3 linked regions of the Homo sapiens genome follow. The protein of the gene in region 3 interacts with the protein of the main gene of each other region in a pairwise test. Each region holds a gene or a part of one and is shown on either strand. Other genes may lie near its edges. The genes, in order: PRKCZ, PARD3 and PARD6G.

The links.
Region 1: the proteins of PARD6G (region 3) and PRKCZ interact in binary tests that used the Homo sapiens proteins (3 or more experiments, as listed by UniProt).
Region 2: the proteins of PARD6G (region 3) and PARD3 interact in binary tests that used the Homo sapiens proteins (3 or more experiments, as listed by UniProt).

The regions. Positions count from the first base shown.
Region 1 is NC_000001.11:2,053,352-2,060,471, forward strand, and holds part of PRKCZ (protein kinase C zeta type), read left to right. Parts: intron 1-2,089; coding exon 2,090-2,211; intron 2,212-3,132; coding exon 3,133-3,222; intron 3,223-6,189; coding exon 6,190-6,240; intron 6,241-7,120. UniProt on the Homo sapiens protein: Calcium- and diacylglycerol-independent serine/threonine-protein kinase that functions in phosphatidylinositol 3-kinase (PI3K) pathway and mitogen-activated protein (MAP) kinase cascade, and is involved in NF-kappa-B activation, mitogenic signaling, cell proliferation, cell polarity, inflammatory response and maintenance of long-term potentiation (LTP).
Region 2 is NC_000010.11:34,109,061-34,112,416, reverse strand, and holds the end of PARD3 (partitioning defective 3 homolog), read left to right. Parts: intron 1-854; coding exon 855-1,248; 3' UTR 1,249-2,856; downstream 2,857-3,356. UniProt on the Homo sapiens protein: Adapter protein involved in asymmetrical cell division and cell polarization processes. Seems to play a central role in the formation of epithelial tight junctions. Targets the phosphatase PTEN to cell junctions.
Region 3 is NC_000018.10:80,160,490-80,167,609, reverse strand, and holds part of PARD6G (partitioning defective 6 homolog gamma), read left to right. Parts: intron 1-5,006; exon of another isoform or gene 5,007-5,094; intron 5,095-7,003; coding exon 7,004-7,120. UniProt on the Homo sapiens protein: Adapter protein involved in asymmetrical cell division and cell polarization processes. May play a role in the formation of epithelial tight junctions. The PARD6-PARD3 complex links GTP-bound Rho small GTPases to atypical protein kinase C proteins.

The sequences.
Region 1 (7,120 bases), on a different chromosome or scaffold from region 3:
GCCTCCCAAAGCGCTGGGATGAAAGGCGTGAGTCACCGCGCCTGGCCCAGCTCAGACAACGTTTGTGTTCAGGGAGCTTCTGTGTGCAAAGCCCAGGGCTTGGTGCTGAGGCCAACAGAGACGCAGGAGTCTCTCCCGGGCGGCCCAGCTGGCTGCTGGGTGCTGAGTCCTGGACGCCCCTGCTGAAGGGCACAGGGCAGCTGTTTGATTCAGGATTGGGATAGGGTTGGAGGTGGTGGCCTGACACTTCCCAAGCCCTGGGGTTTTACTGGAGCCACCCACCTGGCCTCTAGATTGGCCGGAAACTGGCTTCCACTGGAGGCAGGACTGTAGGGGTAGGGGCGTGGGGCAGGAAGAGGTCAAAGGTGAAGTGATGGCCGACTCCCACTCTGGAGTTCCTGGTGGTCAGACTTTTGGACTCCAGGTCAGGCAGCAGGCGTGGATGTCAGCTTGGGGCGACCCCAGGGTGATGGGTGTGTGACCCCCCTCCATTCCTTACTTTCCTAATCTGCCATGATGCTGTGGGCTGTGGCGAAGACCAGCCAGGTTGGTTCCTGTGGGGTGCTTGGGCACTGGGGGCAGGTGCTGGGTGGCCAGTTCCAGCAGGAAGGGGTGGGTAGCTGGGGCGTCTGTCCCCCAGGCCCAGGTGGCCCAGGGTGACTGGGTGAGGCCTGTGGGGCAGGTGGGCCCTGGGCTGCTGTGTCAGGGCCGCGGCTGTGGACCGATCCTGTGTTCTGTTTGCACTGGAGTTCTTGTCTGGGATGAGAACTTTGTTTCTTGAAACTTGTCTGATGAATTCAGATAACCTTGATGGGGAGCCAGCAGTGTCAGCGAAGAGCAGAGCCTGTATCTCTGGTTGGGACATCTCACACCCCTTCAGGCTTCTTTTTATAGGCCCTGTGCTCTTGCCCCGCGCTCTTGTGGGTGTCAGAAAGCCGTAGATTTTTCTGAAAATTCAGTGTGTTCACAAGGGTGTGATTCCCGCTCTGAGTTTCAGGAAACACCAGCTGGGCCCTGTGGTGGTCCCTCCCCTCCACGCAGGGTGAGACCAGCTCTTGCTCAGTGCAGGAGGTGAGGGGGGACCTCGGGTCCCTATCAGCAGGGAAGTGCCAGCCTTCAAAGGGTGCCTGGGAGTCCGTGAGCTTCCCCAGCCCCTGGAGTTCAGGTCCTGTCTGGGGCTGAAAAGATAAAACACACTGACTCTGTGTGACTCGGTTTTAAAAAAAAAAAAATCTGCCGGGGCTTCTGCCGTGGCTGCAGCAACGGACCCAGTGCCCACTCCGGGGTCTAAAGAGTGGCCTTTCATTATGGAATTATTTAATCCCCGCCACTTCACCGCTGGCACCGTCGAGGTCTGGGGGCAGGTCTGACTGGTTTCCTTTACCTTAGTGAAGCCGGCGGCCTGCACCGACCCGGCTCGCGCCCATCCCGGGGTCACCCACATTTGGGTGAACTTGAACGAGTGCCCGACCAGGTAACGTTGCCGGACCTCCCACAAGAGGGCACTTTCTTTTCTCCCATTTTGTCCTCATTCTTTCCAGCCAGGTAGGTCGCGCTTTTTTCTCTGTGCAAGGAAGTTGATGGTGGTCATTTTTTTTTTTTTTTTTTTAATACGGAGTCTCTCTCTGTCGCCCAGGCTGGACTGCAGTGGCGCGATCTCGGCTCGCTGCAAGCTCCGCCTCCCGGGTTCACGCCATTCTCTTGCCTCAGCCTCCCGAGTAGCTGGGACTACAGGCGCCCGCCACCGCGCCTGGCTAATTTTTTGTATTTTTAGTAGAGACGGGGTTTCACCGTGTTAGCCAGGATGGTCTCGATCTCCTGACCTCGTGATCCACCCGCCTCGGCCTCCCAAAGTGCTGGGATGACAGGTGTCAGGCACTGTGCTTGGCAATGGTGGCCATTTTTTAAACTATGGTTATGGTTAATGGTTCTATTTTGTGTGTGGGAGGGGGGAGGGGGTGGGGCTGTCATATTGTCTTTGGGGAAAGTTTCATTTATCTAATCAATGATTTGGTTAGTTGGTAATCATTTTTTAATTTGATTCAAATATGCCCCACGGTAACAGATGCCCATGTCCCCTCTGCCCCAGGGACATCTTCATCACCAGCGTGGACGCCGCCACGACCTTCGAGGAGCTCTGTGAGGAAGTGAGAGACATGTGTCGTCTGCACCAGCAGCACCCGCTCACCCTCAAGTGGGTGGACAGCGAAGGTAGCCCTTGTCCCATGTTGGCCAGAATCCTCAGCCTCAGGGGACTTCGCCAGGGCAGCCTCTGTGTGCGGAGTGTGCTCAGCCAATTCTGTGGGGAGACTTAAAGCTGTGGAATTAAACTTGTTGGCGCCAACTTTTCCCCAGTGGGGATGGTGGGAAAGAGGTTGGCCACAGATGCTTATCAAGGACCTGGGCCCAGATGCCCCTAGGAAGGGCTCTGGTCTTGAACTGCCTGCAGGGGGTCTCCCTGCCCCACCCTGGGCAGGTCCTCACCTCTTCCTCTGACCTCCTTTCTCATGTCCTGGCCTTTTTCGGTAGGTGCTTCTGAAAGGATGGGCTCTTCATATTCTAGGGACCACGGGGAGGGCACAAGCAGCCAGGGCCTGCCGTGTCCACCTCCTGTCTCTTAGACACATCCTGAAAAACAAGGGGATTGGGAGACGTCCAGAGAGACCCCTTTCTCCCAGGGACTGGCGGGCAGCTCTTGGCCAAGGACACGGCCGTGCGGGTGGAGCCTGATAGCGCCCCCGTTGGGTTGGGTACAGCCCTGCAGGGCCTGGGTTCTGTACACCTCCATGTCCCTTTCCAGCCATAGAGGGCAAGGAGCTCTCCCTCCGCCCAGGACTGACCTCCGGAGAGTGTCCTCAGCCCCGCTCACTGCTTAGCCCTCCAAGTGGTGCCCAGGGCTGCAGGTGTACTGACTTCCCTTCCGGGGTGGCTCTGACGCTGCACCGGGGGCCAGGTGACTCCCTAGTGTGGACGGCCGTCCTTGGACCTCCCGACCCTGCCAGGAGGTGGCCAGTCTGAGCATCGGGACTTTGCCCCCCACCAGACCCTTGTCTGGTGTGCTGAGCGGGCTCGTCACAGCCCCCTTTGCCTCGGGCCTTCGGCGACGTCAGCACCGTCTCCTGCCCCACCCAGGTGACCCTTGCACGGTGTCCTCCCAGATGGAGCTGGAAGAGGCTTTCCGCCTGGCCCGTCAGTGCAGGGATGAAGGCCTCATCATTCATGGTTAGTGGCGGGGTCTGTGGTGGGCAGCTCTGGGGGGCTGTTCCTGGCTGTGGGTGTCTGCCGACTAGCTGGGGGATTTAAAATGGTTTAAAATCCTATGATGCCAGAGAATTTAGGGATGTCTAATATAATGCCATTTGGGTTTTTTTCTTTGACTTTTTTTTTTTTTTTTTGAGACGGAGTCTTGCTCTGTTGCCCAGGCTGGAGTGCAGTGGCACAATCTCAGCTCACTGCAAGCTCCGCCTCCTGGGTTCATGCCATTCTCCTGCCTCAGCCTCCCGAGTAGCTGGGACTACAGGCGCCCGCCACCACGCCCGGCTAATTTTTTGTATTTTTTGTAGAGACGGGGTTTCACCGTGTTAGCCAGGATGGTCTCAGTCTCCTGACCTCGTGATCTGCCTGCCTCAGCCTCCCAAAGTGCTGGGATTACAGATGTGAGCCACCGCGCCCGGCCTTTTCTTTGACATTTTATTAACCCAAATGAAAACTGCTCTTAACAAAGAACCCGTAAACCACTCAGAGGCTCCAGTGGCCAGCGTAGGGCCCGCGGCGCATGTGGACAGAGGGGACAGCCCCACCAGCCACCTCACCTGCCCGGTGCTCCCTAGGCCCGGCTCCAGGCTCACAGCTGTCCTCAGCTTTAAGTTCAAAGCCCCATGATGAGCTGACGCATGGGAGATGTGATTGTGATCATTTCCACTTTGTCTTTAGGTGGGCGTGGGCTCCTCCCCGGTACTGCTGGGGGTCTGCAGGGCGTCTGGGGCCTGGGAATGTGGTTCCAGCGCTGTGGCCAGCCGGTCACGTCTTTGTCTCTGTGTCCACTTCTGGCGTAGCTTGGGCTCCTTGCCAGGCGTCTGGCCATGGACGATTGAGTCCAAGATGGGACCAAAGCTCGAAACCACCCATGGATTTCTGACAGATCCATCATTCTCCTGGACACCGGGCTACCTGGTTACAACACTTAATTTTCTTCGCCCTTTATATCAATGAGGCTCTAAATTTAAAGACTAGGCCGGGTGCGGTGGCTCACAACTGTAATCCCAGCACTTTGGGAGGTCAAGGTGGGAGGATCGCTTCAGCCTAGGAGTTCAAGACCAACCTGGGCAACATAGTGAGACCCCCCCCTCTCCAAAACTTGTTTTATTTTTTTGAGACAGAGTCTGGCTCTGTCCCCAGGCTGGAGTGCAGTGGCACTATCTCTGTTCACTGCAACCTCCACCTCCCAGATATAAGCGATTGTCCTGCCTCAGCCTCCCGAGTAGCTGGGACTACAGGCATGTGCCACCACACTTGGCTAATTTTTTTTTTTTTTTAGTTGGAGTCTCGCTCTGTCGCCCAGGCTGGAGTGCAGTGACGCGATCTCAGCTCAATGCAACCTCCGCCTCCCGGGTTCAAGCAATTCTTCTGCCTCACCCTCCCAAGTAGCTGGGACTACAGGCATGTGTCATCACGCCTGGCTAATGTTTTGTATTTTTAGTAGAGACGGAGTTTCACCATGTTAGCCAAGATGGTCTCGATCTCCTGACCTCGTGATCCACCCGCCTCAGCCTCCCAAAGTGCTGGGATTACAGGCGTGAGCCACGGTGCCCGGCCTAATTTTTGTATTTTTAGTAGAGATGGGGTCTCGCCATGTTGGCCAGGCTGTTCTCAAACTCCTGACCTTAGGTGATCTGCCTGCCTCAGCTTCCTGAAGTGTTGGGATTACAGGCGTGAGCCACGGTGCCCGGCCCCAATTTTTTTTTTTTTTTTTTTTTTTGATATTCAGACGTGGTGGTGCACCTGTAGTCCCAGTTACTCGGGAGGCTGAGGTGGGAGGATTCCTTGAGCACAGGAGGTAGAGGCTACAGTGAACTGTGATTATTCCACTGCACTCTAGCCTGAGTGATGGGGCGAAACCCTGTGTCAGATAAATAAATTCATAGATGTGCCTAATCTAGTCCTTTTTATTGTGGTTGTGATAGTAAGCACATTTTGCCTCTCTATGTGGAAAGATACAGTGGCTTAAAAATTCACATTGTTTTCTAGATAAAAGAAAAATAGGGCTGGGTTCAGTGGCACACACTTGTAATCCCAGCACTTTGGGAGGCCGAGGCAGGTGGATCACTTGAGGTCAGGAGTTCAAGACCAGCCTGACCAACATGGTGAAACCCCATCTCTACTATAAATACAAAAATTAGCCGGGCGTGGTGGTGTACACTTGTAATCCCAGCTACTTGGGAGGCTGAGGCAGGAGAACTGCTGGAACCCGAGAGGTGGAGGTTGCAGTGAGCTGAGATTGTGCCACTGAGCTCCAGCCTGGGCACAGAGTGAGACTCCATCTGAAAAAAACCAACAAAAAACAAAAAATGTTTGTTTTTTTAAAGTTTCAATACTTTTATGTGTATACACACACACATAAAAAAGTAGAGATGGGGTTTCGTCATGTTGGCCAGGCTGGTCTTGAACTCCTGGCCTGAAGCCATCCTCTCATCTCGGCCTCCCAAAGTGCTGGGATTGCAGGCGTGAGCCATCATGTCCAGCCAAGTTTTAATACTTTCTAAGCACCTATTTTAATAATTTATTGTGGAAGCCCAGGATATATGTTAAAATAATTTTGAACTCTGTCTTGAGTATGAAGAAGTGGAATCTAAAGTGCTTTTAAAAGTCAGTGTTCAAAGTAATTGCATTTCTTTCCCATTTTTATATAGTTTAAAAATACAAATCAGTAGCTTCCTCTGATGGCTTTGCTGTCCAGGTCCCTCTGATTGCCTTTTACTCTAAGTTTTTCCGTGGGTTTTAAAGTCGGAGCCTGGCCTACGTAGACGCACGGGGTTTTGCGTCTCCCAGGAGCGGGCTCTCATTGGCAGTGCCACGTGCGCCTTGCGTGAAGTCCACGTGCTCAGCCTGACTGAGGCGGGACTTCCTCCGTGAGACTGTTGAGTGGCAGCCGCAGGGTCTTGACGCTGTCTCTTTCTCTCTCTTGTCCAGTTTTCCCGAGCACCCCTGAGCAGCCTGGCCTGCCATGTCCGGGAGAAGACAGTGAGTACTGGGGTTTCCTACGCCGGTCTCGCATGTTACGGGGTTGAACTGTTGATCCGTTGTGCCACGGAGGTGGCAGTGGTGCCGTTTTCGGAGGTTCACCCTCGTGGAGCGTCAGGGCAGGAGCAGCCGTGGTGACCGCAGGTGGGGTTTTCACTGCAGCTGCTGCCTGTGCGTGTTCTGGCTGACAGCACCACATGGCGGGGGACTCGCTTGGCTGGTTGGTAGCATGAGAAGTCCAGGGGTGCCCTGCCGTCTCCCTAGGAGGGAGGGGCCAGGTGGGAGGCTGGACACTGCTCCTTTGTGGCTGCCTCAGCTCACGACCACCCCTAGGCCAGTCGTCTGCTCCTCCTGGTCCCTGCTGGCCCCTGAGCTGGTGTGGGGGCTCCGTTCATCCCACACTGGCTCCATTGTTGGGAGAGGAAGGAGAGTGAGTCCCGGGGGCTGTGGCTTCAGAGGGAAGCTTCTGACCTCACTTCCTACTGCATCCCGGAGACTGTTGGGCCCTGAGCAGGTGGCTACGCTGCTCTCGGGCCGCGCATCCCATGGCTGTGCTTGGTGGGGTTCCACCCCCACTCTCCAGACCCCACACGGCCTCCAGCATCCGTGCCATGCCTTGTTCGTTGTGTGGGCAGGAGCTCCTGGACCGAGGCCGCTGCCTGTCCAGCGCAGGGCACGTGGCTCAGTGCCCTTCAGGCAGGGCTTCCCCCACCCCTGCTGCCAGGGCACACACCTCGCTGGCCTCAGGCTGGATGCTGGGTGTTGGCAGTGCCCTGTGTTGGGCGGGAACTGGGGGTGGGAGCAGATTCAGGCCAAGAGGGTGAGTGGGCAGTTGGGGCGAGAGTCTTGGCTTCCAGTGAGAAGTGGGGCTGAATAGAGG
Region 2 (3,356 bases), on a different chromosome or scaffold from region 3:
GATAGTAAATTAAAGATGTTTCAAAACAATAATGTTTCCTGGAAATCATGCCCAACTCTGTTGCAGAAGTGGGAAGAATTTGAAATTTCCATGTGACTCTGATTTACTTGCCTATCCTGGGGTGACAGAAAGCAAGTTAAGTAGGTCACCCTGGCCTTTGGTGAAGGTAAATGTATAAGAAAATAGTGCTTACTTTACAGACTTCCGGACTCTCCGTCCAATCTGGATGAGCAGGTATCCCGGAGAGTGTAAGTTGCTGACATACACAACTTGAAAGCCAGAGCTTTAAGGGACTGCCTGTTGCATTTTTTATCATAAAGGAGTCTAGACTTAAATCTTTCATAACCGAACTCATACTGTAATCCATTACATGTACTTCATATTAGCTAGCGCTTCTGGCATTATGGTGGCAGCTGTGTAAAATATTTGTTGTGCTTGTTTAGAATTGAATTGTAATGTTCTAAAGCGAGCAATTATTCCTACCATGGAAGCTGCCAAACCTCTAATACTTCTATACTTTGCCAGTGTGTCTAAATTGCAGGAGATATTGGTACCCTAAGCAGAACAGACACAACCTTCTCAGACACAGGAGGATGACCCTGTTTCTAAATAGCTGCACAGTCTAGTTCTCTCTCCTGTTTACTCGTTGTTAGTTTAGTTGTCTAAGACTATGCGCTTGCTGAGGACAGTCATTTTTGAATTCTCCAGCCCCTATCGCAGTGTCTGGCATGTGATGAGAGAACAGGAATATTTGTTGAAAAGTGAAAATGCATATTCCATCCCATCCTGCCCCCTTTCCTCCCTCTCCCTCCTTCTTCCTACCCTCACACTAACCTTTGGGTTTTGCTTTCTAGGCAAAGCAGGAAAAATGCCAGCTCGGTCTCCCAGGACTCTTGGGAGCAGAACTACTCCCCTGGGGAAGGCTTCCAGAGTGCCAAAGAGAACCCCAGGTACTCCAGCTACCAAGGCTCCAGGAACGGCTACCTGGGAGGACATGGCTTCAACGCCAGGGTCATGCTGGAAACTCAGGAGCTCCTTCGCCAGGAACAGAGGCGGAAGGAGCAGCAGATGAAGAAGCAGCCTCCTTCCGAGGGGCCCAGCAACTATGACTCGTATAAGAAAGTCCAGGACCCCAGTTACGCCCCTCCCAAGGGGCCCTTCCGGCAAGATGTGCCCCCCTCCCCTTCTCAGGTTGCGAGGCTGAACAGACTTCAGACTCCTGAGAAAGGGAGGCCCTTCTATTCCTGAGCACGCAAATAACGGATGCTTCATGTCGCGCAATAAAAGACATTTTCCTATGAAGACTTGTATTTTGGGAGTTTTTTTAAAACCTCGATGGTACTATGGAGTATTTCTGTTGTTGGTATCAGTGCCTTTAAGCGGTGTAGGCAAAGAAATGGAAGGCCTTAATGTCTTTGCCACTATGTCTCAAGTGTCTGTTTCATGGAAGGATTTCCCACCCTGTGACAATCATCTGTTTGAGGTGTTCATATGCTCTGCGCCTCTCCACAGTACCAGGAATCTCGGCCCTACTCATGAGTTGTCCGCGGCTTGGTTGTAACATCCCTGCACCACTTGCAGTGACAAATTCACCTGAAGTGGAGGATGACGTGCGGCCCTGTTTCTCCCTCTAAGTTCTCTTAGCTATGGGATGACATCTTAGTCTCTGGTGGAGGAAAAGTGGGCGACATACACCAAAAATTGGGGCTTTCTGGTACTTCACAGCACAGCCATTTGTCGTACTTTGTCATCACTGTGGTTTTCTCTTTCCTTTCTCAGCTCTTTGTGACGGGAGAGTCGGTCATCCTATTACAGAAGCTAAGCCATAGTCCAACATTGTTTGGTCACCATGGGGGTCCTTTTGTAACTGCCTTATGACTCAACATTACCAATAAAGTGATGATCCTGGTCTGCGTTTATACATACGCTTGTTCGGTCCTGTTCCTGACACGTGGGTTGAGTCACCACAGCTCTGTGTGGGGAACGTGGGAGACAGGAGTGGCTCCTGCCGGGGGAAGCTGGGCCTGCCATTGGCCCTGTGTCTATCATGAGGGGAGAGCTAAGAAAGAAATTCTCCTAGGAAGAGCTCATGGCCCAGTACATCCTAGTAATTATTTTAATTAGTTTTTGTTCTGACAGCTTGTCAGGAAGGGCACAGAATGGGACAGAGATAAACCAGACAGTCATTTTGATCTGCTCTCTACGGTTTTTCAAGTCAGAGGCAATTGATGCTTGTCTAATGCATCCACACACTGCATGTCTGACTGGCGATGCCGCGCTCCTAAGTAGTTCTGCCATGAAACATAAAAGACAAAGGAAAAGCCGTTACACATCACACAGAGAACATTTTCGGGTCCCACAGCGGTGGTGGCAGGAAGCTCACTCTCGCGTCAGTATTAGAGTGTGTGTGTGGGTCTCGGGGATCTCGGTGGCTCCCATCTTCCTTCATTGTTCTGAACATCCTGTATTGTAAACCATGGCTGGGGTGCTAAAGTGCCTGTGAATCCCGATGTGGAAAAAGCTGGAGGTGAAAGCTCAGCATACCATGTATTTACTTTAAAAACAGAAAAAAAGACATGTATGGATATGTCTATTTTTTTTTTATTGGCACATTGTATTTTTGTGTTGACTTGTTTTTAGAAATGATGTGTCCACACACGTACCCGTGTCTCTTCTGCATTTCTGTGTCATGGTTCTGTTTCTTAATCACGTGCGGCGGTGTCTAAGTGGTGTTACCAGTGTACGCGCAGTGACCTTGGATGACAGTGGCTCTTTCTCACAGCCTCCCCTGAGCTGTGAGAAACAGCTTTCTCTGTACATATGCAACTCCTAATAAAAGGCATATTTCTTCCTGTTCTTTTGGTGTCTCTGGTGTTCCTGGGCAGCCTTGCCTAGCTGGGCTTTTTTAAAAGGTCTATTAACAGATGTGATTTTTTTTTTTTTTTTATATTTAGAGAAAGTTGGAAGTTTCCTCACATCTGAGGAAAGTTTGCAGGAAAGGGGGCAGGAGAACCCTGGGGCCCACTCTTGGATGAGGATGGAGAGGGGGGACTCACCTGTCCCTTGGAAAAGATGGTCCCCATTATGACATCATTCTCACTCTTAGTCCATTAAGACAATATACAGTCTTACAGTTGGAAGTCTCAAAGTGGGAAGTTTGCAAACACAGGAACTGGTGGTTGATTGCGTATTTGAGCACCTGAGGAGAGAGGGGAAGGGGAGAGACAAGAACCTTCATGAGTCCACTGCAAGGCCCAGGCTGCCTGAAGAAGCCTGAGGAGTTCTGAATTGAAGGAGCCAGTACAGCTCGAACTAAATGAATGAAAAATTATGCAGAAAGCGACATGATAGTCCCA
Region 3 (7,120 bases):
GGCCCCAGCTCCACCCTCTGCAGCGCCTCCTCCCAGGACCCCAAGTCTGTCTGGAAACATGGTGGAGCGTTGCTGCTGCCTTGCCTGTCATGGGGGTTACACAAAAGACCTTCCCTGTCCAGGCCATTCCGGGGCCCTGAATCCCTGAGCCTGTGTCCCTGTCCCCAGGAGTACCTGCTCCAAGCTTGCTGCCCTGAGTGAGCTGCTGCATGAAGAGCCGTGCCCTGTCCTCAGCACTGCCCATGTGTTATCCTGCACACACATCCACACGCAACACTGCCCATGTGTTATCCTGCACACGGGTCCACACACAACACTGCCCATGTGTTATCCTGCAACACGTCCACACGCAACACTGCCCATGTGTTATCCGGCACACAGGTCCACACACAACACTGCCCACGTGTTATCCTGCACACACGTCCACACGCAACATGATGCTCTCAGGCAGGAACCACAACAGAGGACCCACAGCAGGGATGTGACCTGTGAGGCCCAATGGGTGTCACTTGTAATTGTGAACTGTCACTGTTTTGATTGGCCATTGTCTTGCCCTGAAAAGTGGTAATTATTCCATACGGTGACACACGGAGCCCTGCACCTTTAGATGCGCTGAAACTCCCTTGGAGCACAGGGCCAAGGCCAGAGGGGTCAGCATGGGATGTTAGGGTCTGGCCAGCACGACTGAGATCAAAGGGGGCTCTGGTTTGTTGGATCCTCAAGTGTTTGCAGTTGTGGGGCCCCAAAAGAGGTGGCTGTGGTGTGGAGAAGGGGCCCTGAAGGGACTTCTGTGAGAACAGCCCCCTTATGGTCGGGGGAGGACCAGACCTTCCTGGTCTGCAGGGAGGGCTATGCACTCCCCTGAAGTTCCCCGGGAAGGTGGACATGGGGAGTGAGGACCCTGTGGACTGTCTCGTGCTCTGAGGATGTAAGGAGCCAGGACAGGATGAAAGGGGCACGTACCTCCCCTGCTTGTCTGACGCTCTCTACAGAGGACATTTACCAGAAACTTGAAAATGCTGCTGTAAAAAAGCTGCCACGGAGCTGTTGTGTTTGGGGCAACTAGATCTGACCATGGAGGAGGCTGTAACTGATCGCTTTCAATGAACTTGACGCCTTTAAATTCTAAGGGAGGTGGAGATTTTCCACTGAGACAAGGCGTCCTGATGCCCCCATGACCGAGGGTCACACCAGCAGTGTCTGCCATGGCACACGTGCCCCAGACTGTGTCGCCTGCTTAGCAGAATGCAGTGGGGCTGCTGAGAGAGACACTTGCAGCCCTGCATCTGGGCCTTTGTTCTGCTTGGGGTGCGGCAGAGAGGAGGAACACACTCATGATTGGGGTGGTGTGCTGTGTTGGTGCCGACCTGACCATACGGTGTCCATGAGCTGAGGCTGTGTGCCGCTGACATGACTGCCTTCATCTCAGAAGGAAAAATACAAGGGAACAGTCACATTTGTTTACAGGTCCAAATGGTGACAAAGTGGTAGCTATGTTAGGAAATAAGCGGAAATGATAATTTTTTTTTTTGAGATGGAGTTTTGCTCTTCTTGCCCAGGCTGGAGTGCAATGGCACGATCTCAGCTCACTGCAGCCTCCGCTGTCTGGAAGCGATTCTGCTGCCTCAGTCTCCCTACTAGCTGGGATTACAGGTGGATGCCACAACGCCCAGCTAATTTTTGTATTTTTAATAGAGACAGGGTTTCACCATGTTGGTCAGGCTGGTTTTGAACTCCTGACCTCAGGTGATCCACCCACCTTGGCCTTCCAAAGTGCTGGGATTACAGGTGTGAGCCAGCGCACCCAGTGGAAATGATAAATTATGTTTTCTGGCAACTTCCTGGAGGTTAACAGTTCAACACCATGTTTTTTCAAAACAAACCTTTACTAAAATTTTAGAGGCAAAGACATATCCATTGCGGGAAGTCAGGGACCCTGAATGGAGGGACTGGCTGGAGCCACAGCAGAGGAACATAAATTGTGAAGATTTCATGGACATTTATCAGTTCCCAAATAATACTTTTATAATTTCTTATGCCTGTCTTTAATCTCTTAATCCTGTTATCTTCGTAAGCTGAGGATATACGTCACCTCAGGACCACTGTGATAATTTTGTTAACTGTACAAATTGTAAAACATGTGTTTGAACAATATGAAATCAGTGCACCTTGAAAAAGAACAGAATAACAGTGATTTTTAGGGAACAAGGGAAGACAACCATAAGGTCTGTCTGCAGGGTCAGGCAAAAAGAGCCATATTTTTCTTCTTGCAGAGAGCCTATAAATGGACATGGAAGTAGGAGAGAGATCACTAAATTCTTTTCTTAGCAAGGAATATTAATATTAATACCCTGGGAAAGGAATGCATTCCTAGGGGAGGTCTATAAATGGCCACTCTGGGAATGTCTGTCTTATGTGATTGAGATAAGGACTGAGATACGCCCTGGTCTCCTGCAGAACCTTCAGGCTTACTAGGGTGGGGAGAAACTCTGCCCTGGTAAATTTGTGGTCAGACCGGTTCTCTGCTCTCGAACCCTGTTTTCTGTTGTTGAAGATGTTTATCAAGACAATATGTGCACTGCTGAACATAGACCCTTATCAGTGGTTCTGCTTTTGCCCTTTGCCTTGTGTTTGTTGGATGCTTATCAGTGGTTCCGCTTTTTCCTTTTGTCCTGTTCCCTCAGAAGCATGTGATCTTTGTTAGACCGTTATTAGTACGTCTGCTTTTTGCCTTTTGAAGCATGTGATCTTTGTACCCACTCCCTGTTTTACACCCCCTCCCGTTTTGACACCCTTAATAAAAAACCTGCTGGTTTGAGGCTCAGGTGGGCATCACGGACCTACCGATAGGTGATGTCATCCCTGGTGGCCCAGCTGTAAAATTCCTCTCTTTGTACTCTTTCTCTTGCTCAGCTGGCTGACATTTATGGAAAATAGAACCTACGTTGAAATATTGGGGGCAGGTTCCCCCATTACATATCTTCAAAAGGTTTAATTTGAGGTTGGCTAGGATTATATTTTACATTATTGTTAGGTGGGTAAACAAGGCTCCCCTCTGCTCAAGTCCTTGAAGGCCCAGGACCCCCCAGTTTCATCCTCTTACTATGGGCATGACATTCAGTTGTGACGTGAAGAGCAGTGTGGACCCGGTGGAAACACCCAACCATGAAAGTTAAAAGCTGGAGCCTTTTAGACACATGGAGAGCACATCACAGAGGCAACGCCCCTCACAGGTTGGAGGGTTTGGAGTGCAGGGGAGGGATTTGCAGTAGTTGGGACTTGGCCAGGAGGAGGGGCTGTTAGGATGGCCCCTAAGTGTTTTGAGGGAGGAGAGGCCCACTCAAGACTGTGGGGCCCATGGACAAAATACAAAGGCCAGGTCCTCACTCCCTGCTTAGTCTCTCTGGCACCAGAGCCAGGGGCTGTTGGGCACCCATTCTAGCCTTGAGGAGGTGAGGGTCCAGGCTCTGTGTGTGGGGTGCAGCAGGTGGGGTAGTTATTGTCCACACGTGTTCCGTCCTTTTAGGCTGCCTCTTTCTGATCTTTGTACAGACAGAGCAGACTTTTGATGGGGCTTTTTGGTCTATGCCTGTTGGTGCATCCAGGTTGCTGGTGCCTTCAGCTCCAAGTCTGGGATGACAAGGCTAAAAGAAAACCCAAGGAGCTGCTGCCATGTTGCTTCTCCGGTCCTGAGGCCCCAGCTAGTGCGACTTCTCTCCTGCGTCATCTTATATTTGTTGTTTTGTATGTAACATCCAGGGTTTTTGTTGAACTTAGGAGGGATGGGAAGAACTACATGACTTCTGGGAAGCAGAGGTCCACACACTTGCTTTTATTGGTGCAGGGAACCCTGGTCTACCTAAGTGATTTATAAGCCCCTTACGAGGAGGGGCCCGGCCCGCTGTGCCCTTCTCTGTATCCTACAGTTCTGGGCTTGAGCCTCAATCCAGTCCACCGTGCACCACGGCCAGAGCACTTGCTGCCCTGTGGGGATGGCCGAGATGCTTCCACCTGGCCCTTGTGACGCAGACAGGTTTGTGGTTTTGGTGGAAGGGAATGCACCATGCGGAACAGGGGTGGGGCTCCCGGGATGGGTGGCTGTGAACTGGGACTTGAAGACAAGCGGCTCTCAGAGGGAGGTGAAATTGAACCTCAAACTCTGTGAGTCAGTGGTAGAGAGAAAGAGGATGCTTGGAACAGTAGGTGTCACCTCTCCCGGGCCAAGCCTCACTGTACTCTGCCCGTGTGTGGGACAGGCGGCCAGGCTGTTTCACACATGGACACACACCATTTCTTACTCCCCTACCCTCAGCATCTCAGGCCTCACCTGCCCTGCATAAAACCTTAGTCTCTTCTCCTGGGCCCTGCTGCTCGTGGCTCTGAGCACAGGGCCTGAGCATAGGGCCTGTCCTCAAGGAGGAGCATGTGGATGGCCACCTGCACCACAATGTTCTTGCAGGCATGAGTTTGCCAGAGGGGTTGCCTTCTTGAAAGTGCATAGATTTGTCATCCAAGGAGACCCCTTGGGAAGAGCCCGTATCATGGAAAGCAGGCAGAGCACTGTGCCTCGGACACTGCCACACTTCCATCTGCGGCCCCATGGATCCACAGTCCCTCCCACTTAGAATGAGCAATCATGAGGCAGATGCCTTCAGTGAGGTTTAGCTTTTAGTCCAGGGAGAGCCCACTCTGTCCCAGGCCCTTGGTTAGTCCAAACCTGCGGCAGCAGCCAGACCAGATGGACTCTACAGGTAGTCTCTCCTCATCACGGGAAGAGGAGCTCTGTGCCACTCACCCTCCGGCGTCTTCTCTTGAACTTTGTGTTGTTGATCCCCACACCCCGGGCAGCATAACTGCCACCTCCCCAGATGCCCCCGCACTGTTCCTATCATATCCTGTGCACATCCAGTCTCACGGTGTTCTCCATGTAGCTGTATGTAAAATTCAGTCTGTATCTCTCCCACTCGCTTCATGGCTACTTCAGGGCAGGGACTTTATCCACTCACCTGTATCCCTGAAGTCACTGAGTAAGGATTTGCAGTGTCTATGAGGTGCAGAGAGGCCGGGTGCTGGCCAGGAACCAAGATCCCATTTCTATAAAACAAGCACAACCATAGCCACATGTACGTGTGAGTGTGCAAGAAAGGACTTGACAGACATGCACACCCAGCCCCGGTGGTCACAGCTGGGAAGAAGTATTACAAGTGTCATTTTATTTTTTTATTTTTGTGGGTACATATTAGGTATATATATTTATGGGTTACATGAGATTTTGATACAGGCATACAATGCATAATAATCACGTCAGGGTAAACAGGGTTTACAGGTATAGTTTTTAAAAGTCATCTTATTTCAAAAGTCCTTCCAGACCTTACTGTGTCAGTGGGTAATAAATTATGCTGATAACTGATGACGGATGGGTTCCGTCACTGAGCAGCATGTGTTGAGTGCTGGCCAGGATGCCAGCTCCCAGGAAGACAGTCCTCATGCTGGGGCATCCCGGCTCCAGGGTGCATTAACCCTGCTGCCTGGAGCATGTGCCAGAGCCTGTGCTAGGGCCTTCTCGTTGTCTAGGCAGCCATGGGCTCTGCTGGGTTGAGAGATGTGATGCCTGAGCATTGGCCTCCTCTCCAAGCTGCCTGAATGTTGCCTCCATGGTGGAAGTAATTTGTCTTCGAGTCCTTTCCAGAACTGTCAACCAGCATTCCCCATCTCCAAAGCAAGTCATAATGGGCCCTGCCTGCTCACTGAAATGCAGAAGCCAGACTGACCCCTGGAGCCTGGAGGTCTCTGCTCTGAGGAGCGCCTGTTTATGGCATTGCTTCTGCCTGGGCTCCCGGTCCTACTGGCTTTCACTGGCAAAGCAAAGATGTGAGCCTCCCCAGCCCAAAGAGCAGGCTGCTGTGGATGCCACCAACTCCACAGGACCAAGCCTCACAGAGCAAGCCCTTCCCTCTGCTCCCCGAGACGCCTGTCTTACAGAGTCGTGTGTGTCAAGAACAAGAGGTTTCATATAAAAATTAATGAAACAAGATTTTTTTTCTGACATGAGGAAAATGCATTATTCAGAGTTTCCAAATGCCACCAGTCTCTTCACTTAAAATTTTTACTTTAGACTAAGCTCCTTACGTTTCTGCTTGATTAATTCAGTGGACTTTCATTTTATTTTGCAGTAGCCCAACTTTAGGGTAAAGTTTACACACTGCCACAAATGTGTCATGCCACAGGCTGGCAGGTGTGGGCAGGCGGATCCCACAGGGTCCCTGGGAGACCTGAGGAAGAGAGCTGCACAGCCCCCATGGGAGGCTGGGCATATTGGTGAGCCTTGAGGCTCCATGTGCCTACAAATAGCACTGACTGTGCGGGACCTCACAGAAGGGAAGCAGCCATCCTCTGATCCCACTCCTTCCTCTACTCATCTCCCCTCATCAGCTGCTAACCAAAAACGCAGGGAAATGCTCACACGCCCGACTGAGTGACACATTCAGGGGCCTTGAATGCTGGCTAGAAGACACTGTGGTGGGGCTTGCGCATAGAAAAGAAGAAAGCAGGAAAGGTCTCTCTTAGTTGTAATTAACCTTAGAAAAAAACGAGCCTCCGTCTTACAGTTGAGAGAAGGAAATATGGGAGAATGGGCAAAGCTTAAGAAGTCCCCAGTCCAGCCTGCTGCCTCCCAGAAGGCTGAGGCACTCGCCAGCCCTCCAAGCCCTAAACCCTCCACTGCCATTGATTCTCTCTGCTGCAGCTGCCTGCTAGCACCTTTTAATCTCTGAGTTCTTTGGTTTGGTGCCTGTGGAGCTGTAAGGAGAGTGCTAGAGAGTTAATTTTAGGGGCTGCACTTGAGCTTGCCTGATTTCAGCTCAGCCTGCAGGTCTGGAATGCTCCTGTGCACCCTGGGTGCTTCGGCGTCACGCAGATGGAACAGCAGTGCCAGGTGTATGACGGCCGAGGGCTCAGGCGGGGCTCGGTTGTGTGTCCCCTCTAACTGTCCCCTCTCCCGCAGAGGAGGCCGAGCGTGGCAGCCTCGGCGCGGGCTCGCTGTGCAGGCGGAGGCGGGCGCTGGGCGCGCTGCGTGATGAAGGACCCCGGCGGCGTGCACACCTGGACATCGGCCTCCCGC